Linked DNA regions of Homo sapiens. The protein of the gene in region 5 purifies or fractionates together with the protein of the main gene of each other region. This does not show direct contact. Each region holds a gene or a part of one and is shown on either strand. Other genes may lie near its edges.

Evidence for each region.
Region 1: the proteins of SLC12A7 (region 5) and PCDHGB5 purify together in Homo sapiens (co-immunoprecipitation; one large-scale study listed by IntAct). This does not show direct contact.
Region 2: the proteins of SLC12A7 (region 5) and SLC41A3 purify together in Homo sapiens (co-immunoprecipitation; one large-scale study listed by IntAct). This does not show direct contact.
Region 3: the proteins of SLC12A7 (region 5) and ZDHHC11 purify together in Homo sapiens (co-immunoprecipitation; one large-scale study listed by IntAct). This does not show direct contact.
Region 4: the proteins of SLC12A7 (region 5) and MTHFR purify together in Homo sapiens (affinity purification with mass spectrometry; one large-scale study listed by BioGRID and IntAct). This does not show direct contact.

The regions. Positions count from the first base shown.
Region 1 is NC_000005.10:141,491,550-141,495,850, forward strand, and holds part of PCDHGB5 (protocadherin gamma-B5 isoform 1 precursor), read left to right. Parts: coding exon of another isoform or gene 1-328; intron 329-3,257; coding exon 3,258-3,316; intron 3,317-4,301. Other genes in the region: PCDHGA1 (protocadherin gamma-A1 isoform 1 precursor), read left to right, coding at 3,258-3,316; PCDHGA2 (protocadherin gamma-A2 isoform 1 precursor), read left to right, coding at 3,258-3,316; PCDHGA3 (protocadherin gamma-A3 isoform 1 precursor), read left to right, coding at 3,258-3,316; PCDHGB1 (protocadherin gamma-B1 isoform 1 precursor), read left to right, coding at 3,258-3,316; PCDHGA4 (protocadherin gamma-A4 isoform 1 precursor), read left to right, coding at 3,258-3,316; PCDHGB2 (protocadherin gamma-B2 isoform 1 precursor), read left to right, coding at 3,258-3,316; PCDHGA5 (protocadherin gamma-A5 isoform 1 precursor), read left to right, coding at 3,258-3,316; PCDHGB3 (protocadherin gamma-B3 isoform 1 precursor), read left to right, coding at 3,258-3,316; PCDHGA6 (protocadherin gamma-A6 isoform 1 precursor), read left to right, coding at 3,258-3,316; PCDHGA7 (protocadherin gamma-A7 isoform 1 precursor), read left to right, coding at 3,258-3,316; and 11 more. UniProt on the Homo sapiens protein: Potential calcium-dependent cell-adhesion protein. May be involved in the establishment and maintenance of specific neuronal connections in the brain.
Region 2 is NC_000003.12:126,070,022-126,074,322, forward strand, and holds part of SLC41A3 (solute carrier family 41 member 3), read right to left. Parts: intron 1-4,301. UniProt on the Homo sapiens protein: Na(+)/Mg(2+) ion exchanger that acts as a predominant Mg(2+) efflux system at the mitochondrial inner membrane.
Region 3 is NC_000005.10:837,487-841,787, forward strand, and holds part of ZDHHC11 (palmitoyltransferase ZDHHC11), read right to left. Parts: exon of another isoform or gene 4,207-4,301; coding exon of another isoform or gene 4,197-4,206; exon of another isoform or gene 3,359-4,196; coding exon of another isoform or gene 3,317-3,358; intron 3,165-3,316; coding exon 3,009-3,164; coding exon of another isoform or gene 2,933-3,008; exon of another isoform or gene 2,862-2,932; coding exon of another isoform or gene 2,733-2,861; exon of another isoform or gene 2,596-2,732; coding exon of another isoform or gene 2,486-2,595; exon of another isoform or gene 1,956-2,485; intron 1,053-1,955; coding exon of another isoform or gene 1,019-1,052; exon of another isoform or gene 1-1,018. UniProt on the Homo sapiens protein: Endoplasmic reticulum-localized palmitoyltransferase that could catalyze the addition of palmitate onto various protein substrates and be involved in a variety of cellular processes.
Region 4 is NC_000001.11:11,795,597-11,799,739, forward strand, and holds part of MTHFR (methylenetetrahydrofolate reductase (NADPH)), read right to left. Parts: intron 804-4,143; coding exon 610-803; intron 1-609. UniProt on the Homo sapiens protein: Catalyzes the conversion of 5,10-methylenetetrahydrofolate to 5-methyltetrahydrofolate, a cosubstrate for homocysteine remethylation to methionine. Represents a key regulatory connection between the folate and methionine cycles.
Region 5 is NC_000005.10:1,084,198-1,088,498, forward strand, and holds part of SLC12A7 (solute carrier family 12 member 7), read right to left. Parts: intron 4,164-4,301; coding exon 4,109-4,163; intron 2,837-4,108; coding exon 2,706-2,836; intron 1,277-2,705; coding exon 1,035-1,276; intron 1-1,034. UniProt on the Homo sapiens protein: Mediates electroneutral potassium-chloride cotransport when activated by cell swelling. May mediate K(+) uptake into Deiters' cells in the cochlea and contribute to K(+) recycling in the inner ear.

The DNA.
Region 1 (4,301 bases), about 140 Mb from region 5:
GAGCCACTGCTACAGGACGTGCTTTTCACCGGCCTCGGACGGCAGTGACTTCACTTTTCTAAGACCCCTCAGCGTTCAGCAGCCCACAGCTCTGGCGCTGGAGCCTGACGCCATCCGGTCCCGCTCTAATACGCTGCGGGAGCGGAGCCAGGTGAGGGGCTCGGCGCCGCCCCGGGCGACCCCTGGGGGCGGCACTGGAGAAGCCGCCCGTCCTCATAAGGGATTGAACTTGCATCCACTCCTCTCCGGCCGGCTTGGTCGCTGGCTGCGCTCCACCCGATTCTCGGGATCATTGGACCGTTTGCGCGAAACCAGAGTGGCCGATTAAGGGATGGGGCTCCGAGCACCGGGGGTGGTGGCGACTGTGGGCGAGGGGAGGTGGGACCGACCCCCACCCCTACACTCAAAAAAGGCCGGGGCCTCCTTCGAGCTTCCGGTGAATTTCGGGCGATTTCCGCGGGTGTCGGGGGTCCCGGGAGGAGGCAGTCACAGATCCACCCCTGCAGCCAGCCTCCTAGGCGCCGGCTCCGGCACGCTTCGCCGGTCTGTAGATTTCCTCTTCGATTTCTCCCCAGCTCCCAGCATCTGTGACTTCACTGTTACCCTCCCTATCCCCGCATCACCCAACCGCACCTGTCTGCGGGACTTAGGTGTGCGCGCGGGGCTCATGCGTGTCCTCCCTGCTGGCCACCCCCACGGCCCACACAAGTTGCACGGGCTCGCCACGCCCCGCCAACACGTGCGCGGACGCACGCACGCACTCCTCGCACGTGGGCTTACGCGAATACCAGCTTTCACTGCCACTCGCTCGCGGCCAGATTCACAGGCCTGTTCCGGTCCACTCGCAGCTCCCCTCTGCCGCTCCCTCCGCCGGGCTCAGGAGTACTCGTAGCTGATTGTGCGCGCCTGAGGGTCCCAGATCGCGGCCGCCCAGGACCAGGCGAGGACTCCGGAGCCTCCTCTCACCTCTCCCACCTGCGCCCCGGGCTGGGCCGGGTCGCCTGGGGGGCGGCCTGAGCGAGGCGCGGGGCCAGGAGCGCTGGAGCGACTGCCGCTCTAAGTGCCGGGCGGGCAGGACTCTACGATCCTTGGGCCAGAGGTCCGGATGGTCCCGGGACTCCGTCTCAAGGGTCGGCGACCCCTCAACCCAGAAGCCTCGAGCAGGCGGACAGGCAGAGCTGCCCAGTGGCCGAGGCGCGGCAGGGCTCCGCGTTGGGCGAGTGAGTGAGCCTCTATAGGACAGCAGGACTGGGACTCCAGTGGCACCAGCGGCCCCTTCCTCCCGCAGGAAGTGAAAGCCTCGAGCGCCCTGGCTCTCAACCCCCAGAGATACAGGCTTTTGGCGCCGTCGTGATCACAATGTGCCCAGCGATCTAGGGTCAGAGATTTGGAGGTGACCAAACTATCTGACACTCTAACAAGTCCTGTCTCCTCTGGCAGATGGAAAGCTATAGGCTCTGCCAGATGCCAGGGTGCCCTTATGTGTGAGGAAACTACAATAGTAAAAAACACAAGTTTCTCCAACTCCAGGAGCTTTTATTCAAAATATATCAATGCCTAACTCTGCTCCTAGGACTGTATTTTGAAACACCCCCAGGTGATTTTGATAGCTGATTGAGAGAAACTTACTATATAACTCCTTTGAGAACCTCATCTCATTTGCTCTTCCCACCATTGCTGTTGGCTAGGTACTAACATGCCTCTCTTATAACAGCTTCACAGAGGTCAAGTGACTTGCTCAAGTTCACAGAGCAAGTAAGAGAGATTCTAACCCCTGTCTAACTCCAGAATGTGTGCTTTTAATTTCTTGGCACTTGGAACTTTAAAAGCTTGAGGACAGGAGAGGGGAGTTGCCTCTGCTGGGATTTTGCTTCTGCTGGGATGGGGCAAGGGTGGGGTTCCTTCCCTTTTAGGACCTTACATGTGGGGAAAGTCTTCTGTGGCTCCTCATTTCTGAGCAGTCCCCGCAGCGCAAACTTGGCCAGTTATCCTTTTGGAGATTGAGTTCCCCCAGCTCCGTTTCCTCCTATCACAATCACTGCATTTCCATGTAGATTCTGCTGTGTCTAAGAATACAGTGGCTGAGGGCTGGCCATCCCTGTGCCCTTCTCCATGGCAGCCCCAGAATGGTGCTGGTGACTCCCGATACACCTGGAATGCTAGGTTTCTGGGTTCTGCTCATATCACTGCCACCTGTGAGCCTTGAGTGAGCCACTGGCAGTTCCGGAGCTTCCTTCTCCCTGGAGTAATCTGAGATACTCACACTCTCTGCTTCTGGGAGCAAGTATGAGTATTAATTACCAGCCCACCCCAGAACCAGTGAGGAGGTGGCTCTAGGAGTGCTCCATGAGAGTGTGTGATGGGATAACACACCCCCTGGAAAGACCAGAAGGGACTCAGGAATGAAGTGGCTGGCCAGAGCCCCACACCTTCAGCTAGGTGGGAGATGGCTACACATCAGCCCCTTGGGAGCCCTGGAGACTTAGTTGGCCCTGCTTGGAGGCTGTGGGAGCTGGATCCCTCCCCGCTGCATCCCTTCCATTTTTCTCCGTCTCAGACAGAGCAGCCTTGTTCTCTTCTCCTTAGTCACAGACCATTGTCTGGCACGGAGTTCTAGGGGTGAGAAGTGTCCCGGGACTTGGATGCCCCGCAAAGGCCCAATCTGGCATGACTCCTAAATTAATAATGTATTTAGCTGTGGGAAGAGATTCTTGCAAGCCAAGGGCCCAGAGAAGATGTCCCTGTGAATGTGTCACTGCACAACCTGGCACCAAAAGGGTTACCAAGAACAGCAGCCATCTTGCTGCAGAGGATGCTTTGTTCCCAGCTGAGGAGTTGAATAAATTCATTCTAGGGCTGGTAGAATTCTCATTGAAAAGCCTCCTTTGCCACTTTAGGGGGCTTTGTCTGCACCTCTTCCCCCAGTTCCACAGAAGATGCCTTCAGTCCTTGAATTTTGGCTCAGGAGTTCTGACTCTGGGGGCAGGGAGGAAGGGGCCATTTCTTTAGGAAAGGAGTCTCAGCTTGCTCACTGTGGTCAGATGAAATGTGATTTATCTCTTGGTTTCTGGTACCTCAGACCTCTGAGACCTGAGGTGTATTTTGTCTTTGGAGATGAGTCCACCCCTGCCCCCTCTTAGTCCGTTTTCTTCTCTGTGCCCACTCCCCTCCTTCTCTCCCGGCCCATCCCTAGGGGCTCGGGTGACATTCTAACTTCTCACGGGTACTCAGCCCCTTTCCCTCTGTTTTCTCCACAGCAAGCCCCGCCCAACACGGACTGGCGTTTCTCTCAGGCCCAGAGACCCGGCACCAGCGGGTAGGTGACTGATTCTCCAGCCCACCCTCTTCTCTGCGGCATTTTCTCAGGGATGACGTGGGAGGAGATGGGGGAGGGCCCAGCATTTGCTACAGATGGCTTCTCCCTCAGTTTGAGATCCCAGGGAGGTCTTGGTGTGCGGGGGGCTGGCACACAGACCCCGGAAGGAAGAGGCGACTGCCCTGACTGTTCAGGAAGCTCAATTCACATGCTTGCCCCTTCCCTCCTCGCCACGACCGGCACCTTTTCCTATCCCCTGAGGGCACTGTGGAACCAAAGGATGGTCTTAAGCTGGTCTCTGGGTGAAAGCGAGGCTTTCTATGCCCATGTACTGCCTAACCCCCTCCCCTGAGTTGAGCTGGGCTCCATTATGACCTGGGGCTCAGGCAGAAAAGCATTTGACCGGAGGAGGCGGTCCGCACTCAGCGCCTCCTCCAGAGCCTCCAGAGCCGAGGCTGACTGCAGCCTGGGGAGAGTGGAGGCAGCACAGCTGGAGGTGGAACTGAGGAAGGACTGGGCGGGGCATGGAGCAGGCCCCCTTCTCCGGCCCCTCCTCCCACTGTCCTCTGCCCCTACTTGTCCTGCTCTCTGTCTGTGGGGTCTCCGTGTCTCTGCCCCTTTTTCTTGAGTTTCCGTCTTTGCCACTTTCTCTTACCTCTCAGTCCTTCCCTCAGTCTCTATCTCGCTTTGCAATCTCTGCCTCTCCCTCTCTTCTCCATCTCTGTCTTAGCTTCCGTCTTGATTGCTGCACCTCAGCCTCAGTCCCTTTCATTTGTCTACTTGCATTGATCTGTGCCGCCCACTGTGCCTGCCATGGCATAAGTGCTCAATAAATGTGGAGTGAGTAACTACACGGGACCCTTAGTCTCTTTCTCCTTCTCTATCTCTGCCTCCCTGTCCTTGTCCTGGACCTCTTTTCTGTTTCTCCTTTCACCGTTTCCTAGCGCCTTGTGTTCTTCTATCCCCAGCCTCTATGTTTCTCTGT
Region 2 (4,301 bases), on a different chromosome or scaffold from region 5:
AGGGGGAAGGCAGAAAGATATTTGAAAAATAATGGGCAAAAACTTTCCTGATTTCATAAAACATTAATTTCCACATCCATAGAGCTCCACGAATTCCAAGTAGAGTAAACTCCGAGAGAGCACACCAAGACCTGCCAAGAATCTTAGAAGCAGGAAGAGAGCAGCAACTCATGATGTACAAGAGATCCTTTAGAGCAGGGGTCCCCAACCCCCGTTGGGAACTGGGCCACACAGCAGAAGGTGAGCGGCTCCCGGCGAGCATCACTGCCTGATCAGGTTCCCTCTCCTGTCAGATCACCGGCAGCATCAGATCCTCATAGGAGCTCAAACCGTATTGTGAACTGCGCACGCAGGGGATCTAGGTTGTGTGCTCCTTATGAGAATCTAATGCCTAATGAAGAGGTGGAACAGTTTCATCCCCAAACCAGTGCCTCCCCTCCGCCCCAGTCCATCGAAAAATTGTCTTCAACAAAACCAGTCTCTGGTGGCAAAAAGGTTGGGGACCACTGCTCTATAAGATTAACAGCTCATTTTTCATCAGAAATAGAAGCCAGAAGGCAACAGGATGGCATCAAAGTGCTCAAAGAACAAAAGCTGTCACCTAAGAATTCTTAACTAGCAAAATTATCTTTTCAAAGTAAAGGAGAAATTAAGAGATTTTCAGATAAACAGACACAGAGCATTCGTCCCCAGCACACCTGCCCTAAAGGAAACACGAAAGGGAGTCTTTAAGGCCGAATTAGGATCCTAGACACTAGCTAGAATCCACACAGAGGAAGGAAGAGCATCGGCAAAGGTAACCACCTAGACAGATTTTTTTTTTTAAGTATAAACACATTTTTGTTAGTAACTCTTTTTACTCTTATCCAATTTAAAGACAACCACATAAATCAAGTTGGAATTAAGTTGTTATTGATCCAAACACGATTATTATAAACCAAGGTGCTGATTGTAATCCTCAGGGCAACTGCTAAGAAAAAAAAATATAAAAGAAATAACAAGTGAATAAAAGTGATACACTAGGAAAGATCTACTTAGTACAAAACAATGCAGTAATGGGGAAACAGGGAAAAAAGACATTAGACAGACAGAAAACAAATAGCAAAATGGCAGACATAAATCCCATCTTATCAATTATTACATTAAGTATAAATGGATAGGTTGGAAGTAAAAGGATTTAAATAAATATACCATGCAAACAATAACCAAAAGATAACTGGAGTGGCTTTAATACTATTAATAATATCAGGCAAAACAGACATAAAAACAAGAATTCTTACTACAGACAAAGAAGGATATTTGATAATGATAAAAGGGTCAATCTATCAAGAAGCTATAACAATTACAAACGTACATATGCCTAACAACAAAGCCCCCAAATACATAAAAGTGGCAGAACTGAAGGAAGAAAAAGACAATTCAATAATAATAGTTGGACATACCTCACTTCCAACAATTGATAATACAATTTGACAGAATTTCAACAAAAGAAAGAGGACTTCAACAACATTATAAACCAATTAGATCAAACACATCTATACAAAACACTCCGCGCAACAATAGCAGAATACTCAATCTTATCAAGTGCACATGGAACATTTTGCAGGCTTGATCTATCTTAGGAAAAATAACTTCAATAATTTAAGACTGAAATCATACAAAATATGTTTTCCAACCACAACAAAATAAAATTAGAAATCAATAACAGAAGGACATTTAGGAAATTTATAAATATGCGGAAATTAAACAACTTTTTTTTTTTTTTTTGAGATAGGGTCTTATTCTGGCACCCAGGCTGGAGTGCAATGGCATGATCACAGCTCACTGCAGCTTAGACCTCTGGGGCTCATGTAATCCTCCCTTCTCAGCCCCCCAAGTAGCTGGGACTACAGGTGTGTGCCACCATGCCCAGCTAAATTATTTTTTAAAGTTTTGTAGAGATGGGATATCACTGTGTTGCTCAGGCTGGTCTCAAACTCCTGAGCTCAAGTGATCTGCTCACCTCGGCCTCCCAAAGTGCTAGGATTACAGGCATGAGCCACCATGCCCCAGCCCATACTCTTAAATAAGTAATGGGTCAAAGACAAAAATCACAAGATAAATTAGAAATTTCTTTGAGATGAATGAAAATGAAAATACAACATGCCAAAAAATCATGGCATGTGTTAATGTAGTGCTTAGAGGGAAGTTTATAGCTATAACTATCAATTTCTTTAAAAAGAAATGAACAAATTAATAAATCAATTTTCCACCTTAAGATAAAGAGGAGCAAACTAAACCCAAAAAAGTAGAAGGCAGGAATTAATATAGATTAGACTGGTAATAAATGAAAGAGAATTGTAAAAAAAAATAAAAAAAAAAAAAGGCCAGCAAAACCAAAAGTTGGGTCCTTGAAGAGATCGACAAAACTGACAATCCTTTATGTAGACTGATGAAGAAAAAAAGACAGAAGACTCAAATAGTTAAATTAGGAATGAAAGAGGAAACATTACAACCAAAACTAAACATAACTATAAGAGAATATATGATTAACTGTAAGCCAACAAATTGGAAAAGCCACCAGTCAGAATGGCTATTATTAAAAAGTCAAAAAATAACAGATGCTGGTGAGGTTGTAGACAAAAGGGAATGCTTATACACTGCTTGTGGGAATGTAAATTAGTTCAGCCATTGTGGAAAGCAGTGGAGGTGATTTCTCAAAGAACTTAAAACAGAAGTACCATTCAACCCAGCAATCCCATTATTGGGTGTATACCCAAAGAAATATACATCATTCTACCATAAAGACACACGCACAGGTATGTTCATCGCAGCACTATTCACAATAGCAAAGACACAAAATCAGCCTAATGCCTGTCAACAGAAGACTGAATAAAGAATATGTAGTACATATGCCCATGGAACACTATGCAGCCATGAAAAAACAAGATCATGTCATCTGCAGCAACATGGATGGAACTGGAGGCCATAATCCTAAACAACCTAATGCAGAAACAGAAACCCAATACCATGTTTCACTTATAAGTGAGAGCCAAACATTGGGTACACATGCATATAAAGAAGGGAACAACAGACACCAGGGCCTACTTGAGAACAGAGGGTGAGAGGAGAAAGAGGATCAAAAAAACTACCTATCTGGCCAGATGCAGTGGCTCATGCCTGTAATCCCAGCACTTTGGGAGGCCGAGGCAAGCAGATTGCTTGAGCTCAGGAGTTGAAGACCAGCTTAGGCAAGATGGTGAAACCCTCTACAAAAAATACAAAAATTAGCCAGTCATGGTGGAGTGTACCTGTAGTCCCAGCTACTCAGGAGGCTGAGGCAGGTGGCGCTTGAGCGTGGGAGGCGGAGGTTGCAGTGAGCCGAGATTGCACCACTGCACTCCAGCCTGGGTGGCAGAACAAGACCCTGTCTCAGAAAAAAAACAAAAACAAACAAACAAAATCCAAAAAACTACTTATTAGGTACTATGTTTATTACCTGGGTGACAAAATCATCTGTACACCAAACCCCCATGATACCTAATTTATAACAAACCTGCACATGTACCCCTGAACCTAAACGTTAAAAAATAAATAAAGCTAAAAAAATTAGAAAACCTAGATGAAATGTACAAATTCCTAGAAACACAAACTAGTAATACTGACTCGTGAAGAAATAAAAAATATTAATAGATCTACAGATAAAGAGATTGAATTAGTAATCAAAAAACTTCCCACAAAGAAAAGCTTAACACCAGATGGCTTCACTAGAGAAGTCTACCAAGCATTTAAAAAAAAATAACACAAATCCTTCATAAACTCTCAACAACAAATTGGAGAAGGGAACACTTCCCAACCGCTTGTATGAGACCAGTGTAAAGACAACCCAAGAAAGCTACAGACCAATGTGTGTTATGAATACAGACACAAAATCCTCAGCAGAATACTAATAAACTCAAGCCACTAGTACATACAAAGACTTTTACAATATAACCAAGTGGGATTTATTTCAGGAATGCAAAGTTGGTTCAATATATGAAAATCAATGTAATACACCAAATTAATAGAATAATGGGGAGAAAACATAGCTCAACAGACACAGAAAAAGCATTTGGCAACAACTAACACTCTTTCACGATAAAAACACTTTAAAAAGTTAGCTTTGGGTTTCTCATAGATGCCCTTAGTCAGGATGAGGACATTCCCTTCTATTCCTAGACATTAAGACAAGAATTCTTACCACAGACAAAGAAGGATATTTGATAATGATAAGAGGAATAGAAGGGAATGTTCTCATCCTGATTAAGGGCATCTGTGAGAAA
Region 3 (4,301 bases), 250 kb from region 5:
AGGGAAAAGGAGGAACAGGACAAGATACCAGCCCTGCGGCTTTGCACGGCGCCCACAGGACAGCTCAGCAGAGTGGCCAGTGCCACTGATCCGGCCCCTGCACAGGGAGAACTGCTCCGCCCACCATGCAGGCCCTGTGAGGTCAGGATGAGTGCAGGTGCCTTGTGGGCCCAGTTCTGCAGCTAGCTGATGGTCAGCAGGAGGGGTCTGCAGCTGCGACCTGGGGAACAGTGCTGACCCACGCCCCTGCCGCCTGCCACGGCCTCATTGAGCTGCATTGTTAGTGGTGTCAGAGATGAGCTGTCTCTCACAGACCTGGGTCCCCTATACCATGCAGCTTGAGAGGTTGCTCCAGATCCCCTGGGATCGCTGGCAGGGGTAAGAGACCAGCTCAGGAGGGGCCGCTCTGTCTGAGGGTCCAGATGGCCTGTGGGGTTCCCCACATCTGGACACTGGGTGGGGCGCACCTTGGGGGATGCACAGAGACCCCACAGTCGGAGGACCACGCAGTGGGGCGGCCACCCCGAGGTGCTGGCTAGCGGGTCCTGGGACCACACACTCCTGAGCGTGCTGAGAGCCCCAGGCCCAGGAGGTGAACACGAGTGCTGTGAGTGCCACTCAGCACAGCCTCTGATGGGGCTGAGACAGGTCACCATCCCTGCAGCCCTGCACAGTGCCCACAGGACAGCTCAGCAGGCTGGCCAGAGCCCTACCCACCTGGCCTGTCCTGCAGGCAGCAAAGCAGCCCAGGGAAGCAAAGCAAAACCTGATACACCCGTTTATCTAAAAGAGCCGTCTTAACAAACGTTAATAAAATGGGCTCTGCACCTATTTCAGCCACGAGCTTCCATGGAGGGGCCAAACTCTCCATGCTTCTTTCCCTAAACACCAACACCGTGAGAGCCGATGTCTTGTGACTATTTCTGGAGACTGGGGCGGCCGCCCACAGAGGCCTATTTGCAGTGAGGAGCAGATGGCGGTGGGCGCCCTGGGGAGCTGCCTGTGGCCAGCCCAGCCTTCACAGGATGCGTCTCACCACAGCCTCTCCAGTCCTGTGAGGTAGAGAAGAAGCTCCTGGACATCCTGGAGTCACTGCCCAGGGAGGCTCTGGGTCACGGGGGTGGGGACAGGCCTGGGCGTCCTGCCTCCCGCCCACAGCAGCCGACTGCCTGTCCTTTCATGTTTCTGCCACACTTGGTCTGGGCTTTGCGTTCAAGAAGCCCATTCCAAGTGCAGTGCCTGGCTCAGAGGACAGACCAGGTCATCCCTCCCAGCCCCGCATGGCTTCAGGCCCACTGCACTTCCCTGCTCTGCCGCCTGAGGCAAGGGCCAGCTTCTCTGCAGCACAAGGGCCTGCAGCACCCCACGTGCTCAGCACACAGTGGGCATTGACTATTTTAACCCAGGGAAACATTTTGTACACAAAGTTGGAAAAAAATGACAAGTGCAGACTTTGTATTACTGGGCAGTTTGAGCATCCCTTAATCTGCGGCACATGTGGATGAGACCATGTGGCCTCGGCCCAACCTCGGCCGATTCTCCTGTTGTGGGGGGACTCACCCTGACTCTAAGCATCTGAGGGTGAGAGATTTCCTGATAAGGAGAGATGATGAATTCTGGGTGGAGTGAAACTCCAGAAAAGCCTTCATAGGTGGTAAACCCAAAAATATTTAAATATAAGAGAGATTGCTAGATAATTCTAGAAAGTACTTTTAAAAATATTCCTGATTCTAAGAAGGGTGGAGAGTTTTGAAGGAGGCCCAAATGACTTCTCACTCTTAAGGGTTTCAGCTTCAGGAACAGGCAGCCTGTAACATTCTACAAGGCAGACGCGTGTCTCCATGAAGTTACACCTGAGGCTTTAGTTCCATTCCATTCAGTAAACATATCCTAAGCACCTATTCTATACAGGCACTGGCCTTGACATCCAAAATTAAAACTCTGAAAACAGCACATTCAGCTCTGTGTCCGTAGGATTTAATCCAGTGATTTTCATTGCACTTTCATTAAAAAAAATTCAACCCTCAGGCAAGACAACAGTGACTGTAAGATATGCGTTAGAGGTGTGTGTTTTAAAACATCCCCAGGGTTGTGTGGGGACAGTGGTTTGTAGGGTAACCTGTGGTTATGAACAAGGAGGCTCTTGGTGGGGTGTGTTCATTCTGAGCTGGGCGTTCTTGCCACAACTGCAGGCAGGGGATGCTCTGGAGATGGAGGTGAGCCCAGAGCCTGACCCACCCAACTCCCTCTGCCCTGACCAGGGGTTGGCCAAGCTGTCAGGAGCAGGGCATTCTTGGGGGCTGGCCTGGACACACTCTGCTGCCCGTGTCCACAGAAACCCCCTGAGAGGCCACAGCCTCGGGGCCACCACTGCCCAGAGAATGGAAGACGCTTTGCAGCTGGCCCACCATGACCAAAACGGCTGGTGCCAGGAGCAGGGAGGTTGTTGTTACTTCCAACACAGGTTTCCTTGGGGCTGGGGAGTTTACCCTCCGTCGTTCAGCAACATGACTGACCGCCTACCGCTGTGCCCACTGTGAGACCAAGCAAGACCACCAGCTCTCGCTTCAGTTGTTTGGTTAGTGGGTGACCTGCCTGTAATATATTTCATTGTTAGAATTTCTACTTGTGTTTTTGGAAGTCCACCTGTCCTTATTTCATAATGTCCTGTTCTTGCCTAATAGATTCCATTCCATTGTCTCTGAACATTTTAAACTTGTTACTTCAAGCACCTGGCACCACTCCTGCAGGTCTCGGCGTGAGTTCAGCTTCTTGCTGGGCCTGCTGGGTCCTCATGGATTTAATTTCTTCCTGTGATTTGCCCTTTTTGTCCATGATCTCACTTCTGGGAGAGGCTGACCCTGAACACATGCGCACACGGGGGACAAAGACTCTGGCCCCAGGCGTGGGGGGCTCAGGGTTAGGGACATACTCAAGTAGAGGTGTAAGATGAGCAGCTCTGACCACCCAGCCTTGGGGGGATCGGGGGCTTAGGGTGGGGGACATACTCAGGTAGATGTGGAAGATGAGCAGCTGGCCCAGGTGCACCAAGCCAAGAAAGTCCAGCAGGAGCACGAGCATCCCGATGATCACGACTATCAGGGTCTGCACCTGCACCGGGAACAGGGGGAGGAACAGCAGCCACGTGTTCATATTCTTGACATCTGGGGAGACAAGGGAGAGCCACTGTGTCCAGCACCTGCTGACGGGTGCCACATCAGGTGGACGTCACAGACCAGAGCGTGCTGGGGATGGGGCGGTGTGGGGACAGCCAGTGCGAGGGATGTCTCCCTGCCCAGGTGGACGCCTCCCTTACCTGAGTGCCCCGTAGGCCCTGCTGCCTTCGGTTGGTTTTCATGATCCCTGCTTTATGGATCTGGGAGGTGAGGCTCCAACATTGTCACTAAGTGCCGGGGTCACAGTGCCCACCCCTTCCTAAGTGCTGGGGTCACAGCGCCCACCCCTTGCTCACTAAGAGCCAGGGTCACAGCGCCCACCCCTTCCTAAGTGCCGGGGTCACAGCGCCCACCCCCCTTCCTCACTAAGTGCCGGGGTCACAGTGCCCACCCCTTCCTCACTAAGTGCCGGGGTCACAGTGCCCACCCCTTCCTCACTAAGTGCCAGGGTCACAGCACCCATCCCTTCCTTATTTAGTGCCAGGGTCACAGTGCCCACCCCTTCCTAAGTGCCGGGGTCACAGCACCCACCCCTTCCTAAGTGCTGGGGTCACAGTGCCTGCCGGCTCTGCCGGGCCCCAGCACCCATCCTTTCCTAAGTGCCAGGGCCCCAGCACCCACCCCTTCCTTACTAAGTGCCAGGGTCACAGTGCCCACCCCTTCCTTACTAAGTGCCGGGGTCACAGTGCCCACCCCTTCCTCACTAAGTGCCAGGGTCACAGTGCCCACCCCTTCCTCACTAAGTGCCGGGGTCACAGTGCCCACCCCTTCCTCACTAAGTGCCGGGGTCACAGTGCCCACCCCTTCCTCACTAAGTGCCAGGGTCACAGCACCCATCCCTTCCTTATTTAGTGCCAGGGTCACGGTGCCCACCCCTTCCTAAGTGCCGGGGTCACAGAGCCTGCCAGCTCTGCCAGGCCCCAGCACCCATCCCTTGCTCATGGCCCACTCTGTGTCCCTGGACCCGCTGCACCCTAAAACAGCTGCCTTCAAATAGAACAGGAAAGCCACAGCTCTCGCCTGGGGTCATTTCTAAGATATGGTCCTCTGTGACACTGGGCTGCCAACACTCAAAACCACACTTCCAAAAATCAGGCGTAATGCAGAATGGCAGAGGGCCAGGCA
Region 4 (4,143 bases), on a different chromosome or scaffold from region 5:
GTAGCCGGGACTACAGGCACGTGCCACTATGCCCAGCTTTCCCACTTTTTACAGAGTAGAGCAGCTGCCCTAAGCATTCCAGCCTTGGGTTGAGCCAGCCTTTTAGCCCTAGATGTGTCTGTTGGTAACATGGTGTCATCTAACCCAGCTGTTCCCATGCTGCACTGATCATCCGAATCACCTGCCAAGCTCAAGAAGTAAAACACACATTCCGAGGACCTCCCTCAGATTTACTGAGTGAGAACCTCCAGGGGTGGGACCTGGAGATCCACTTTTTGAAAAAGCTTATCAAGTGGTTCTGATGACAGCCACCTTTGGGAAACACTGATTTAAGCAGGATTTGTAATGAGAATTAGAATCCCTTTTGGTGATGCTTGTTGGCCAAAGTACAACAAACCCCTCAACAGACACTGTTGCTGGGTTTTGGGGGGAAAATTAGAGGTAACCAAAATGGGGTGGCCAAGCAACGCTGTGCAAGTTCTGGACCTGAGAGGAGATCTGGGAAGAACTCAGCGAACTCAGCACTCCACCCAGAGCCCCCAGCCTGTGCGAGGACGGTGCGGTGAGAGTGGGGTGGAGGGAGCTTATGGGCTCTCCTGGGCCCCTCACCTGGATGGGAAAGATCCCGGGGACGATGGGGCAAGTGATGCCCATGTCGGTGCATGCCTTCACAAAGCGGAAGAATGTGTCAGCCTCAAAGAAAAGCTGCGTGATGATGAAATCGGCTCCCGCAGACACCTTCTCCTTCAAGTGCTTCAGGTCAGCCTCAAAGCTCCCTGCTTCGGGGTGGCCTTTGGGGTAACCTGCCAATAGGGATGACAGTCAGGAGAGGCTGGCCTCCACCTGTTCAAGGCGAGGGATGAAGAGACCACAGGGACTGGGCAGAGAGAGTCCTCTGCTTTGGGGGCTCTGATCTTGCACCTTCCAACAGCACAGCACAGCCTGAACTAAAACAGTGAGTGGCTGGGCTCATGACTGATATGCTTCTGACCCCAGAGATGACTCTCAGGGGAGGTGGCTCAGAGCCCAGTTCCAAGAGTGGGGGTGGATTGCTCCAAACTCCCACACTGTCCTGCCTTGAGCAGCCAAGCAAATCAGGCCTGCACTTGGTGGCCATAGAAAAGAGAAAATGCTACAGTTAGCACTGGCTGGGCAGCATCTGGGGTAGTAAGCTTGACTTTTCTCTAGGCACCGGATTAAACATTGTTTTTAATGTAACACTGAAATTACTCAGGGGTCCAAGATAGTGAAAAGCTAAAAACCAAGTTACACAAGGAAGAACTGAAGAAAGTGATGTTTTCTTCAAAGAAAATAATGGATGGCAGGGTGCGGTGGCTCATGTCTGTAATCCCAGCACTTTGGGAGGCCAAGGCAGGAGGATGACCTGAGGTCAGGAGTTCGAGACCAGCCTGGCCAACATGGTAAAACCCCGTCTCTACCAAAAATACAAAAATTAGCCAGGTGTGGTGGTGTATGCCTGTAATAGCTACTCAGGAGGCTGAGTCAGGAAAATTGCTTGAACCCACGAGACAGAGGTTGCAGTGAGCCGAGATCGTACCATTGCACTCTAGCCTGGGCAACGAGAGCGAAACTCCGTCTCAAAAAAAAAAAAAAAAAAAAGAATGAAAAGAATACAGAAACTCCTTTCAAATGTCCAAAGGTCTGTCCTGGGGAAAAAGGATCCACCATAGGTGAGTTTGTTTTGTTTTGTTTCAGAGACAGGGTCTTGCTCTGTCACCCAGGCTAGAGTGCAGTGATACAATCATGGCTCACTGTAGCCTTGAACTCCCGGGCACAAGTGATCTCCCACTTCAGTCTCCTGAGTAGCTTGGACTACAGATGCAAGCCACCACATCTGGCTAATTAAAAAAAATTTTTTTAATTAATTATTTATTTTTTAGAGATGGGGTCTTGCTATCTTGTCCAGGTTTGTCTGGAACTTCTGGGCTCAAGCAATCCTCCCACCTTGGCCTCCCAAAGTGCTGAGATTACAGGCATGAGCCACTGTACCCAGCCCCCTAGTGAAGTTCTTTATTAGTCATATTCTGTGTTGTTTCTAATGGCAGAACCAGCATCCGGTTCAGAGAGCTGGCTAGAGTACTATAAGCCACTCACAAAACAATGAGCTCCTGGAGTCTGAAAACACAGGGGCAGTGGATGCTGAAGACAAGATTCCAGAATTGCTTAGGAGGTGGGATCAGATGTCCCATAGGCTCCTTACTGGCTCTGTGAACTCTCTGACCCCTTTCCTCAATGACTAAACTTACTAGCCGCCTTGCTCGGTCAGGCAAGCAGGATGACCATAGGCCTTCATGAAACTACATGGAGTGCTGGTTTCATCAGCCCAAGCCCAGGGCAGGACTCTGAGCCAGGCGGAAGGCCAAGCTGCTTTGCTCTGATAAGGCAGTTCCGTTCTTAAGAAACCCAGAGTCATCAAAAAATGAATATAAAAACTATTGTTTCAAGGGGTAAGGGAGTGGGGGATAAAGCAATGGGGCTTCACACTTGCAATAACAAAGCTATTTTCCCAGTAGGAATTTCAGAAACAACAAGGCTTTTTAATAGCTGAAAAGTATAGCTACAATACCTAAATATCACCGAACAAATCTAGCATTTGATTACGTATAGATTTTGCTATTTACTCTATTTTTCTATCATGAACAGCTGAGGGCTTTCTTTTTTAAAATGTTTTTATTTTTTGTAGAGACACGGTCTCACTGTGTTGCCCAGGCTGGTCTTGATCTCCTGCCTCAGTCTCCCAAAGCTCTGGGATTACAGGCATGAGCTACCATGCCCAACAGGTTGGTGTTTTCTAATCCACTCATCTTCATTACCCACTTGATAAGCAAAGTAAGAAACCATTCAGCAACTGTGAGCTCACAGCTTCACTAGTTTCCAATCATTATCACCTAACGCCCATCACGGGTGCATATTCCCCCAGTAACTGACTATATAATGGCTGATACAAGCGATGACAATTTAACAGTTGGAAATGTCTGTTCTCTGACTCCTAATCAGTGCTTCCCAGACTTAGCACCTAAACACCCCTGTTGACAGAATGGACATGTCCATCGGGGGTTAGGGACAAGGCCAAAGTTACTCACAACATGTAATTTTCTTGAAGCCACGTGGTTTGTTTTTTGGGTTTTTTGTTTTGTTTTTTTTGAGACGGAGTCTGGCTCTGTTGCCCAGGCTACAGTGCATTGGTGCGATCTCGGCTCACTGCAAGCTCCGCCTCCTGGGTTCAAGCGATTCTCCTGCCTCAGCCTACCAAGTAGCTGGGACTACAGGCACGCGCCACCATGCCCGGCTAATTTTTGTATTTTTAGTAGAGACGGGGTTTCACTATGTTGGACAGGATGGTCTCAAACTCCTGATCTCATGATCCACCCGCCTTGGCCTCCCAAAGTGCTGGGATTATAGGCTTCAGCCACCGCACCTGGCCTTTTTTTTTTAGTTCATATCACTTTAGATGCTACTCCATAACATAGCCATGTTTAATATAAAAATGGTAGGATTTCTCCCAGAATATTGGCAAAAAAACTGTCATCCCAGAAAATGTGCCAATCCCGGGACTTCCTGTCCCTGGTGCACACTGTCTTGCCATACCTGAGCGCTGTCTGAGACGCTGAGGGCTCAATGCCAGCCTTCAGCTTCAAGGGTGGGAGAGAAGTCCAACCCACCCATTTCTGTTGGGGGAACCTGGTCTTGTGGCTGTGGCCAATGGTGATTCTCTTTCCTGGGAATTTGGAACGGAGGCCTGTCCATTAGCCTGGGGAACTGGCTGGAACTGACACTCTGCACACTCAGGAGCAGGCCAGGTGTGTGGAAAAGCATGGGTATCAGGTCTCCCAGATGAAGCACAGATGTGCAGTGGGAAGCGGAGATGGGGGACCCTGTGGCCCCAGAGGGAATGAGGGAGGGCCTTGCTTTTTGACCTCTTCCAGTGCCTTGTGAGGTCTGAGGCCATCTCCTGATCTTGGGTTCCCTGCCCTCTGGAATCCTGTTAGTAAATATCCCTCTTTTGTGGGGTGTTGTTTTTTTTTTTTTTTTGAGATGGAGTCTTGCTCTGCCACTGAGGCTGGACTGCAGCGGCACCATCTCGGCTCACTGCAACCTCCGCCTCTTGGGTCCAAGAGATTC
Region 5 (4,301 bases):
AGGCCAGGCTGCAGCAGGAACGCTGTACTGTACAGCCGTCCCCTCATCCATGGTTCGGCCACCCGTGGTCCAAACGTGCTAAATGAAGCGTTCTAGACGTAAACAATTCACACGTTTTCCACCGCGCGGTGCCGAGTAGTGAGGTGGAACCCAGCAACCTCCCCCCGCGCCAGCACAGCCACGCTGCAGCCGCTCCCTCCCCGAGGCCCTCGGCGGCGTCCTGGCCGGGTCAGCTGTCACAATCTCAGTGTCTGAGTTCAAGCCACCCTCGTGCCACGTGCCAACGGCCAAGAGCACAGGAGTGCCGCCCCCGACGTATAAGCCAGGCCTGTACGTGGAAAACAGTCTACACAGGGCCGTAGCGTCAAGCATCGGCAGGGGGTCTCAGGACGGGTCCCCGAGGGGGAGGGCAGCTGTGCTTCCCTAAAACGGGCTTGTGGGGTTGCAGCTGTTCTGCCTCCCTCTGTTTTGAGGCCTCTATGAGGCTGTTCCTTCAGGGGCTCCCTCCACGCAGAGACGGCAAAACCGCGGGAGCCTCAAGGGGCTTGGCTGCTGGCCCTTTCTGGACCTGCTCCCTGCGGGCTCTGGTGGCCACTCCCATGTTCCAGGACCCTGGGCCGCCTCCCAGCTGCTCCTCCAAAAGGACAAGAAAAGAGCCCCTCCAAGCACCTCTGGGAGGGAGAAGACACCCAGGCCCCAGCAGCAGCCAGGGCCACACCCATGACGCTCACTGCACCTGACCGTGCTCAGGGCCACCGGCCACCCCTGAAACCTGCCAGACCCCTCACCAGCCCTCCTGCCACTGAGGAGGGTCTTCATGCTCAGACCCGGCCACGAGGGTACCTCGGCCCACCTCACCGTTGGGTTTCCTGTAATCCCCAGAACGAGCCCACGGGGGTTCCCGCCACGGTCACACCCAGCCCACCCCTTGCGGGGAGCTCGGCGTCAAGGATGATGGACGAGAGGCGGGCAGAGCCCATGGGACCTGGCCCCAGCCCCACACCCACCCACGGCTCAGAGGCCCCGAGACTCACGGGATGTCCGGGGGGTCGAAGGCAGACTTGATGACGCCGGCATAGATGGCCAGGATGGACAGCACGACGCAGGCCAGGAAGACCAGCGCCAGCTTGTTGACATACTTGACGCCCACGAAGACCACCAGGGCCATGAGCACGAGCGTGCACGTGCCGTACACACGCATGTTGTGCAGCATGGCGGCCGCCTCGCCACCTGCAGCCTCCGCCTGGAAGATGGCCGCACCCGGGGAGATGTACGTCTGTGGGAACAAGGCCGGTCGGGAGGCCGTCCCCGGACACAACTCCCCAGTGCCCGTCCCTCCCGCAAGCCCCCAGCGCCACACAGGGGCCTCCTCCCAACAGGTGCCGGGGCCATCGGGACGCATCCGTGCTGGACGGAGCCCGCGGGGGTCAGCGCACAGGCAAGGGACGGAGCCCGCGGGGGTCAGCGCACAGGCGAGGGACGGAGCCCGCGGGGGTCAGCGCACAGGCGAGGGACGGAGCCCGCGGGGGTCAGCGCACAGGCCATGGACAGCCAGGGGCCTGAACGTTTCCCAGGAACCACCCGGGAGCCTTAGAGTAAAGCAACTTCAGGACCCGGGGCATCCGCATGTCCGCACTCAAAAGAAACACCTTCTGCTAAGAGGAATGTGACTGCTGCCCAGAGAGCTCGGCCCACCCCGGCTGGACGTCCTGGACACACACAGGGTCTGACCACGCCGGCGGGGGGCAACCTCTGTTCTGCCCAGATTCAAGGGAAGGGACGGAGACGTGAGACAGTGCTGCTCAGCTCCCTCAAGACCAGGACAGGACTGGGGTGCAGCAGGCATGGAGGGCATGGCACCCACCCCCACCAAAGGGGATCCTGGGAGTGCGGCAGCCACGGCACCCGGGGCAGGTGGAAAGATGGAGGGACATGGCCAGGGGACTCGGGTTGGGACGGGTGTGGGTGCGACCCCACTGAAAGGTTTCAGAACCTTCTTGGCCATGTGGCTCTCTTCAGGAACCCAGGAGGCCAGGAACCAGGTCTGGCAGCAGAGGGAGGGGCAGAAAGACTGGGGACAGGGGCTCAGGTGAGCGTCTCTGAAGCCCTGCAGGGACAGCGGGTTTCAGAACCTCAGCAGGAAGGACAGCACCCGTCGGCCAGAGAAGGGCGGTTCCCGTCCCCACGAGGACCAAGGAACTCAGGCCACAGCTCTCAGCTGTGCTCAGGTGATGTGGGACATGCTTTGAGCATGCCTGTTTTGAGAAGGTGATGACATCACCTGGTTGTACATTGCTGGGCTCTGGGACCCTCGGCCAAGTGCCCAGATCAGGCAGAGAAGAGGCTGGGATCCTGGCAAAAGGTTCTTCTAAGCCGAGTTCCAGCCCTGCTCCTAAAACAGCTCCGACTGCAGGACTGCACCTACGCGGGGCTCAGATCTACAGTCCAGATGTCTACCCAGCTCATGCCAGGCACGCCTCACGGAGGGCAGCAATGGTGCTCAAGGGGGACACAGGTCGCTGCTGAGTGGACGCTGCCCAGTGGCTTCCGCCATGGCCAGAGCCCAGGAGAGCCCAGGGGCAGCCAGGGCAGTGGGGTCAGGATGGCTCAGTGTGCTGTGTGTGCCACAGAGTGGGTCAGGCAGGGCCCCTTGGCATCCTGCCACAGACTGTGGGGTGGGAACCCTTCCAAAGCAGCACACTTACCAGAAAAATCTCGATGGTCCCCAAAATATACATGGCCCCTGCAAACGTCGTGCCCAGGTAGAAGCAGAGGCCGACAGCGCCTCCAAACTCGGGTCCCAGCGAGCGCGATATCATGTAGTAGGACCCGCCAGCTGCGGAGACAAAGGCGGCAGCCGCGGGTCAGGGGCGCACTTGGACTCGGACCCGAGGTGCGGTCTGCGCTGCCATTCACGGGCAAAGGAGGGCCTGTCTCTGCGAAGGCAGCGTGTAGACCCTCGTCCACCCGCAAAGCAGCACATGGAGACGCTTCCACGGTGAACTCTCCCCTCCCGAGGCTCGGCACACGTTCCACACCAAGAGCACGCGCTCTCATGGACATGAGGACCAGGTGAGATCAGGGATAAGGCTCTCTGGGGAGCAGGAGGCCCCAGCAGGTCCCAGAAAAAGTCCCGCGTACATCAGTGGCAGCCCCAGCCCCCACTTCCACTAAGTTTTGCTTATGAAAAAGGCAAAAGAGAAACTAGGATGTTCAGGAGTCGTCTCGTGTACTGTGAACCACGCACGCTATCACTGGCGGGAAAGCCGGGCGCAACCCCAGGGCTGCCTGGAGAACACAGCTCTCCCTGCTCTGAGCAGTGCGTGTGGCATGTGGAAGGGGTCCTAATGGACGCGGCCATCGTGAAGCAGAGACTGGTCCCTTGGCTGCGGAGGGAGACCCCTGGTGAAGGCCCTCGTGCTCTCCTGAGGCCGGGGAAGTCCGCTGAGCACCAAGCGATGCCCCCGTGGGGATGGGGACCAGCTGCGTGAGGACCTGGTGCTGAGCAAGCCCAGCCGTTAACACGCGCAGCACACATGCACTCAGAAGCAGACGTGGCAGCGTCTCCGTTCACTAGTTATTTCGTATCGTAATTCGTTTATTACTAATTAACAGTATCATCTCAGTTTACTAGTTATTACGTATTGTAATTAACTTATTACTAATTAATATCATCTCGGTTCACTAGTTATTTAGTTATTATGTATTGTAATTAACTTATTACTAATTAACAAGGTCAGGGCAGTGTTTTGTCTTCACCTTCCCTCGTGAGATACAGGTTCCAAGAACTCAGCCTATGGCACACGCTGGGCTACAGGAGCCACTGGAATCGCCCGTGCCTCCCCCTCCCCAGCCCGCTGCCTGGTGGGCACTGCCTACCCTGGCAAGAGACGGTCACCACGCAGCAAAATGGGGAAGAAAACCAAACAGCCGTGACCTCACGGCTCAAACGCCAGAGGAGCCAGTGGAGAACACGCAGAAGGCCCGGCTGAGACCCCCAGGCAGCCCCCGGCCCGGCCTCGCCAAGCGGCCTCCTCGCGGTTGCCGTGCGGCAAAACACAGACTCCTCTAACAGGACTCAGGGCCGCGGCTGGCGGGCACCCCTTACCTGGGACCACACCGTTGGTAGCGATCGCACTCATGGAAATGGCGGTCAGCATTGTCTGCAAAAAGACAGGCAGCCATCTGAGGAGAGTTTTCCAACAGCCTGCCGGCATCGCAACACTCCCAAGTCAGGGTCTATGACCCGGCTCCCGCCGAATGCCAGCCCCCAACTCCAGGGCTCTCCATCTCAATGGAGT